Linked DNA regions of Homo sapiens. The protein of the gene in region 1 purifies or fractionates together with the protein of each later gene. This does not show direct contact. Each region holds a gene or a part of one and is shown on either strand. Other genes may lie near its edges.

What was found.
Region 2: the proteins of BTBD17 (region 1) and PRDM16 purify together in Homo sapiens (affinity purification with mass spectrometry; one large-scale study listed by BioGRID and IntAct). This does not show direct contact.

What each region holds. Positions count from the first base shown.
Region 1 is NC_000017.11:74,355,620-74,358,881, reverse strand, and holds the end of BTBD17 (BTB/POZ domain-containing protein 17 precursor), read left to right. Parts: intron 1-1,150; coding exon 1,151-2,225; 3' UTR 2,226-2,466; downstream 2,467-3,262.
Region 2 is NC_000001.11:3,408,150-3,411,958, forward strand, and holds part of PRDM16 (histone-lysine N-methyltransferase PRDM16), read left to right. Parts: intron 1-3,234; coding exon 3,235-3,809. UniProt on the Homo sapiens protein: Binds DNA and functions as a transcriptional regulator. Displays histone methyltransferase activity and monomethylates 'Lys-9' of histone H3 (H3K9me1) in vitro.

The DNA.
Region 1 (3,262 bases):
CATGGCCAAGGCCAGAATGAGGGAGCCTGGGAAATGTGGTCTTTTATTCCCAGAGGCAATCACGCAGGGGAAAGGGGAGAAATGGACGTTGGGGAAGATGGCTGGCAGTGGCTGCCACACTCCTATAGAGGCAAGTGCGGTGCCGTGTGCCGGTGGGGACTGGCAGGAAAGGTGAGCCATGGGACAGTGGCAGAAGTAAGACGAAGAGATACTCAGCAGAAGTGATCACCAACAGTAGGAGAGGAAAAAGAAAGGTGAGGCTGCAAAAAAGAAATGGGGGCTCACACCTGTAATCCCAGCACTTTGAGAGGCCAAGGTGGGAGGACTGCTCAAGTCCAGGAGTTTGAGACCAACCTGAGCAATACAGAAAGACCCCATCTCAAAAAAAAAAAAAAAAAAAAAAAAAGCTGGAGTGTCGTGGCATGATGATCATAGCTCACTGCAGCCTTGAACTCCTAGGCTGAAGCTATCTTCCCACCTCAGACTCCCAGGCAGCTGGGACTACAAGCGTGCACCACCACACATGACTAATGTTTTAACATTTTTTATTTTTTGTAGAGATAGGGTCTTGCTATGTTGCCCAAGCTGGTCTTGAACTCCTGGCCTCAAGCAATCCTCCCATCTTGGCCTTCCAAAGTGCTGAGATTCCAGGTGTGAGCCACTAGCACCCACCTGGCCTGTAGCAAGATTCTTTATTCTCCTCTGGTTGTCACAGTAACCCTGAGGGGTGTGTGCCACTCCCCCTTTCCTAGGTGATTGATTAGCCTAAGGTTCACTGAAGTTAAGTGACTTGCCCAGACTCATGGCAAGGAGAAGGCAGGCCATGGATCCCAACCAGACTGGAAACCCCAAAGGCAGGAGCCACGTCTGTTTTGTTCCAGCCTAGGGCTGCACGCCTAGTAGAGGCACAGTCAATGCAGGCAATTTCTACATCACCGCGGAAACGGAAAGAAGAGCCTGTGAAGTAAGAATGGCCTGGAAGGGTCCTTGAAAGGAAAACATGGGAAGCCTCAGGGTGGGGCTTCCACTGTGTTTGCACCCGGACAGTGAAGCTCCAACTCCAGGCCGGGTCCCCTGTGGACTCTAAAAAATCTATCCTGGGAGGTGGGTACCGCCCTGACCCCGCCCCACCTCTCGGTCTCTCCCGCAGGTACCTGTACTGCGGGGAGCTGACCGTGCTGCTGACCCAGGCCATCCCCCTGCACAGACTGGCCACCAAGTACGGCGTGTCCTCCCTGCAGCGCGGCGTGGCCGACTACATGCGCGCGCACCTGGCGGGAGGCGCGGGCCCGGCGGTGGGCTGGTACCACTACGCGGTGGGCACCGGGGACGAGGCCCTGCGCGAGAGCTGCCTGCAGTTCCTGGCCTGGAACCTGTCGGCCGTGGCGGCCAGCACCGAGTGGGGCGCCGTGAGCCCCGAGCTGCTCTGGCAGCTCCTGCAACGCTCGGACCTGGTGCTGCAGGATGAACTGGAGCTGTTCCACGCGCTGGAGGCCTGGCTGGGTCGCGCGCGGCCGCCCCCTGCCGTGGCCGAGCGGGCGCTGCGCGCCATACGCTACCCCATGATCCCACCGGCACAGCTGTTCCAGCTGCAGGCGCGCTCGGCAGCCCTGGCGCGCCACGGCCCCGCGGTGGCCGACCTCCTGCTGCAGGCCTACCAGTTCCACGCCGCGTCGCCGCTGCACTACGCCAAGTTCTTCGACGTCAACGGCAGCGCCTTCCTGCCCCGCAACTACCTCGCGCCCGCCTGGGGCGCCCCGTGGGTCATCAACAACCCGGCCCGCGACGACCGCAGCACCAGCTTCCAGACGCAGCTGGGCCCGAGTGGCCACGACGCGGGCCGCCGGGTCACCTGGAACGTGCTCTTCTCGCCGCGCTGGCTGCCCGTCAGCCTGCGGCCCGTTTACGCGGACGCCGCGGGCACTGCTCTGCCCGCCGCGCGCCCGGAGGACGGCCGACCGCGGCTGGTGGTGACGCCGGCCAGCAGCGGCGGCGACGCGGCGGGCGTGAGCTTCCAGAAGACGGTGCTGGTGGGGGCGCGCCAGCAGGGCCGCCTGCTGGTCCGCCACGCCTACAGCTTCCACCAGAGCAGCGAGGAGGCCGGCGACTTCCTGGCGCACGCCGACCTGCAGCGGCGCAACTCCGAGTACCTGGTTGAGAACGCCCTGCACCTGCACCTCATCGTCAAGCCCGTATACCACACCCTTATCCGGACCCCCAAGTAGCCTCGGGGTCTGGGAATAAAGGCCTGGCCTAGGTGGTCCCTGTGGGTCTGGGAAGGGCAAGGCGAGCCTGGAGGTGGCAACAAGCCTGGTCCCCTGGATGGCCAGGCGCCGGCCACCCTAGGGCTGGGGTGGAGTCCAGGTGAGGCGTGGTAGACAAGATGCCTGGTTTCAAGAGCTGATTTCACAGCTGACTTGAAGGAACGTTCTTGGTCCTGAATAAACCGATGCTCAGAGTGGTAAAGGGATGATTGAACCACTCAGTTTCTGGGTAAAAACAACCCAGGGAGGGTCCCACAAGCCAGGGGGTTTAGGGGTTTCACTCCCCTTTGTTGAGCTTTCCCCCCACCCAGACACAGAACTAGGGCAGGTAAAAGCATCCACATGGTCACAGCAACCCACCTGCCTGGGAGACAGGGAGCGCCCCATTCCCCTTGCGGGGGAGTCAGGGAGCACCCCATTCCCCTTGCAGGAGTTTCCTCACTTTGAGGCTGAGGGGCTTAGCTGGGCAGTTTCTGAGCCCTGACCTCGAGGGGCAACCGCCTCATCTGGGTTGTGAGACTTTCTGGCATCTGGGCCGCCTCAGGTCCCTGACCTCTCCTGGGAGGGTGCCTGGGCAGGTGTGAAGGCCAGTGGGATAGGGACATAACGGATCTTGCTAGCCCCACCATGGGGAGAGGCCTCAGGATCTAGAGAAAAACCCCTCTCCCCCAGGTATTTGTAGGTTGGTGCTATATAGCGAGCCAGGGGTAGATGGGGACTAGGGGGAGCGGGAGTTGGTTGAATCTTAGTCATGGCCACCCCACATTCCAGACAAGGTCAAATTTCCAACACAACCATCAAGACCCAAATGGGATTTTATTGTTAAAAAGGAAGGGTGAGAAAAAACCACTGCCAAGTAACAAAACCAGATTCCCTCCCTCACCCACATCCCCAATTGTAATACGTGAAGTGCCTGTCGGCGCCTCCCCAACCATCCAGGATGCCCGTGCCCCACACGTGGGCCAGGAGCCCCGTCTCACTGTCAGCTGCTTTCCTCC
Region 2 (3,809 bases), on another chromosome or scaffold:
ACAGCTGCGCAGGCGCTCATGGCCAGACTCCGTGTCCACCTGCTGGGTGACACACCCATGGCACAGGCAGATGGAAGCCCTAAGCCCCCACCTCACTGGCCACACAGACGGAGGGGGTGTCATTCCTGGTGGTGTCTTTCCCACCAAGGCGCTCACCTGTGCCCTGGGCTGTGTACAAACGTGTGTGTGCATGGGTGTAAGAGAAGGGGTGGGTAGAGCGAGAGGAGAGGAGAACAGGACAGAGAGGAAGTATAATATCTGGGAATGAGGTGCACAGGCTCCCACTGGGCACTTTGCAGAAAGAGCCTTTGCTTTAATAAGTATGCACGTGTGAGAGTGTGTGAGTGTGGGCGCGTGCACCGGTGCGTGTGTGTGTGAGAGCGTGTGTGTGGACACATGAGCTGGTGCATGTGTCGGTGCGTGTGAGAGCGTGTGAGTGTGGGTGTGTGAGCTGGTGTGTGTGTGAGTGCATGAGTGTGGGTGCGTGAGCTGGTGCCTGTGTTGGCATGTGTGAGAGTGTGTGAGTGTGAGCACGTGAGCCGGTGCATGTGTTGGCGTGCATGAGAGTGTGTGAGTGTGGGCGCGTGAGCCGGTGCATGTGTTGGCACACGTGAGAGTGCATGAGTGTGGGCGCGTGAGCCGGTGCGTGTGTGTGAGCGCGTGTGGGCGCGTGAGCTGGTGCGTGTGTTGGAGGATGTGAGAGCACGAGGGTGGGCACGTGAGCTGGTGCGTGTGTGTGTGAGAGCGCATGAGGGTGGGCGTGTGAGCCAGTGCTTGTGTTGGCACGCATGAGAGTGAGGGGCGTGTGAGCCAGTGCATGTGTTGGCACGTGTGAGAGCATGTGAGGGTTGGCGTGTGAGCCGGGGCATGTCAGTGTGTGTGAGTGTGGGCGTGTGGGCCGGTGCGTGTGTCGGCGCACGTGACAGCGTGAGTGTGGGCGCGTGTCTGTGAGTGCGAGTGTGGGCGTGTGAGTTGATGCATGTGAGTGTGTGAGTGTGGGTGTGTGTGAGTGAGTGTGGGCACGTGAGTTGGTGCGTGTGTGTGTGAGAGTGTGGGCGCGTGAGTTGGTGCGTGTGGGTGTGAGAGTGTGTGAGTGGGGCACAGCCAGGGTGTGCTTGTTTGGCCGGCAGGGCTGAGTGCCTCCCCGAGGGCCAGGTAGGTGACCGAGGGGTATTTACAGACCCTCCCTCTGGAGGGTCACCTGTCCATCAGCAGCCCTCCAGAGAGGGCAGATTTGATGAAACGAGACAAAGTTCTTCTCCCCTCAGCCTTGAAAACGCCCCGCCAGGCTGGACGAGCAGGAAGGTAGAGCGGTTAATATAAATAGATATCGTGATGAAAGAACACGATCATCTTAGGGGAAAAGCTCCCAGCTGGAGTCGAAGGAGATCAGGCAGCCGACGATTTCTGGTGAGCAAGAAGCTTGCTGAAATCATTGTTTCCACCACGCCGTGTTTAGGAAGCAAATTGTCCTACAGAGAGAGACACTCGCCGGGATGTGTGTGTGTGGTGTGCGTGTCTGTGGTGTGTGTGTGCGTGTGTGTGGTGTATGTGCATGTGTGTGGTTTGTGTGGTGTGTGTAGTGTGGGTGTGTGTGTGGTGTGGGTGTGAGTGTGTGTGGTTGTGTGTGGGTGTGTGGTGTGGGTGTGTGTGGTGTATGTGTGCATGTGTGTGGTTGTGTGTGGGTGTGTGGTGTGGGTGTGTGTGTGGTGTTTGTGTGCATGTGTGTGGTTGTGTGCATGTGTGTGGTGTGGTTGTGGGTGTGGTGTGTGTGTATGTGCATGTGTGTGGTGTGGGTGTGTGTGCGTGTGGGGGGTGTGGTTGTGTGTTTGCATGGGGGGGTGTGGGGGGTGTGCATGTGTGTGTGCTGTGTGTGCATGTGTGTGATTGTGTGTGTACGAATGTGGTGTGTGGTTGTGTATGTGCATGTGTATGAATGTGTGTGGTTGTGTGTGTGCGTGTGTGTGGTGTGTGTGCATGTGTATGAATGTGGTGTGTGGTTGTGTGTGCTGTGTGTGTGCATGTGTAGATGTGTGTGTGTTCCTCCCTTTTTTCTTAGAAAAACAAGAGGCAAAAGACAAGCTGGTGATTCGCTGACAACCGTTCACAGGCCTTTAGGAAAATGGCCGGAACCCCCAGGCCGCTGGGTCCTGGAGTCTAGCTGGGCCGGCACTGCCCTCTCCTGTTGAGAGAAGATGCTGGCACTCGCCAGCCAGAGCCGGGCACTGCCGCTTCCATCCCAGTCTGAGGAGGTTCCCAGTAGTAGGATTTTCACTTTTCTCAAGCAGGGAATAGTCCCTCTGCATAGGGCTCCTGCCCGGGGTGACCTCCTATCCATGTCCACCTCCAGCCATCTCCAAAGGGTAGTTGAGTACTGCCAGGAGCCCCAAAGTCCGGGATCCCCGAGTTGGGGCCTCCTGAGAACCTCAGGAACTGTCTGTGTCAACCCAGAGGCTGCCTTCTCCGGGGTGCAGGCAGCAGGATCTGGTGCGGAGAGGGGAGGTGGGAGGACACTAGGAACACTGTGAACTTCTAGAGAGCAGGAGGCACAGTCTGCGTGGTCAGCGTCCTGCCCCCACCCCTGCTAGAACAGCTGCAAAAGTGAAGACGAAGGCAGGGCGGGCCCTGAGCCAGCTTGCCCTGAATCCACTGATGGAGTGGCAGACACCATCACATGCATTCGCTTTCCCCGTGCCCCGCCCTGGAGAGCAGGTTCACCTTCCCCAGGGACTTCTGAAAATCTTGGCTCCTAAACTAGCAACACCGTGGGGTAGGAGGGTGGAAACAGCAGTGGCAAGCCCATTCTCCAGCAAAGAAGGTGGCGGCACAGCAGGAACTGTACCAACCGGCCCCCCGATCTGTGCTGGTCACTGGAGGCCAGTCTTGGGTGGGGCGCATGCACACACACATATGTTTCCACATGCTCATGTGTGCACACGTGTGCACACTCAGACACGCACGCTTGCAGAATACACACACGCCTGCCCAGACACGGACACTTACGCACACAGACACACATGCACCTGCCTGTGTATTTGTGTGTACGCACACACGCATGTATGCACAGTACACACATATACACCCATGCCCACGCACATGCACCCAGACAGACTGCTTCCAGCCCCAGCCTCGCCCCTCCAGCGGCTGGCTTTCCCAGTAATTTCATGTGGCGTTTTCAGCAGGGTTTCCCGGTCATTTCATGCGGGTTTGTCTTGGCTTCTGCTGATGTTTTAGGTGAGGTCTGCCACAAGTCCTACACGCAGTTCTCCAACCTGTGCCGGCACAAGCGGATGCACGCCGACTGCCGCACGCAGATCAAGTGCAAGGACTGTGGCCAGATGTTCAGCACTACCTCCTCCCTCAACAAGCACCGGCGCTTCTGCGAGGGCAAGAACCATTACACGCCGGGCGGCATCTTTGCCCCGGGCCTGCCCTTGACCCCCAGCCCCATGATGGACAAGGCAAAACCCTCCCCCAGCCTCAATCACGCCAGCCTGGGCTTCAACGAGTACTTTCCCTCCAGGCCGCACCCGGGGAGCCTGCCCTTCTCCACGGCGCCTCCCACGTTCCCCGCACTCACCCCCGGCTTCCCGGGCATCTTCCCTCCATCCTTGTACCCCCGGCCGCCTCTGCTACCTCCCACATCGCTGCTCAAGAGCCCCCTGAACCACACCCAGGACGCCAAGCTCCCCAGTCCCCTGGGGAACCCAGCCCTGCCCCTGGTCTCCGCCGTCAGCAACAGCAGCCAGGGCACGACGGCAGCTGCGGGGCCCGAGGAGAAGTTCGAGAGCCGCCTGGAGGACTCCTGT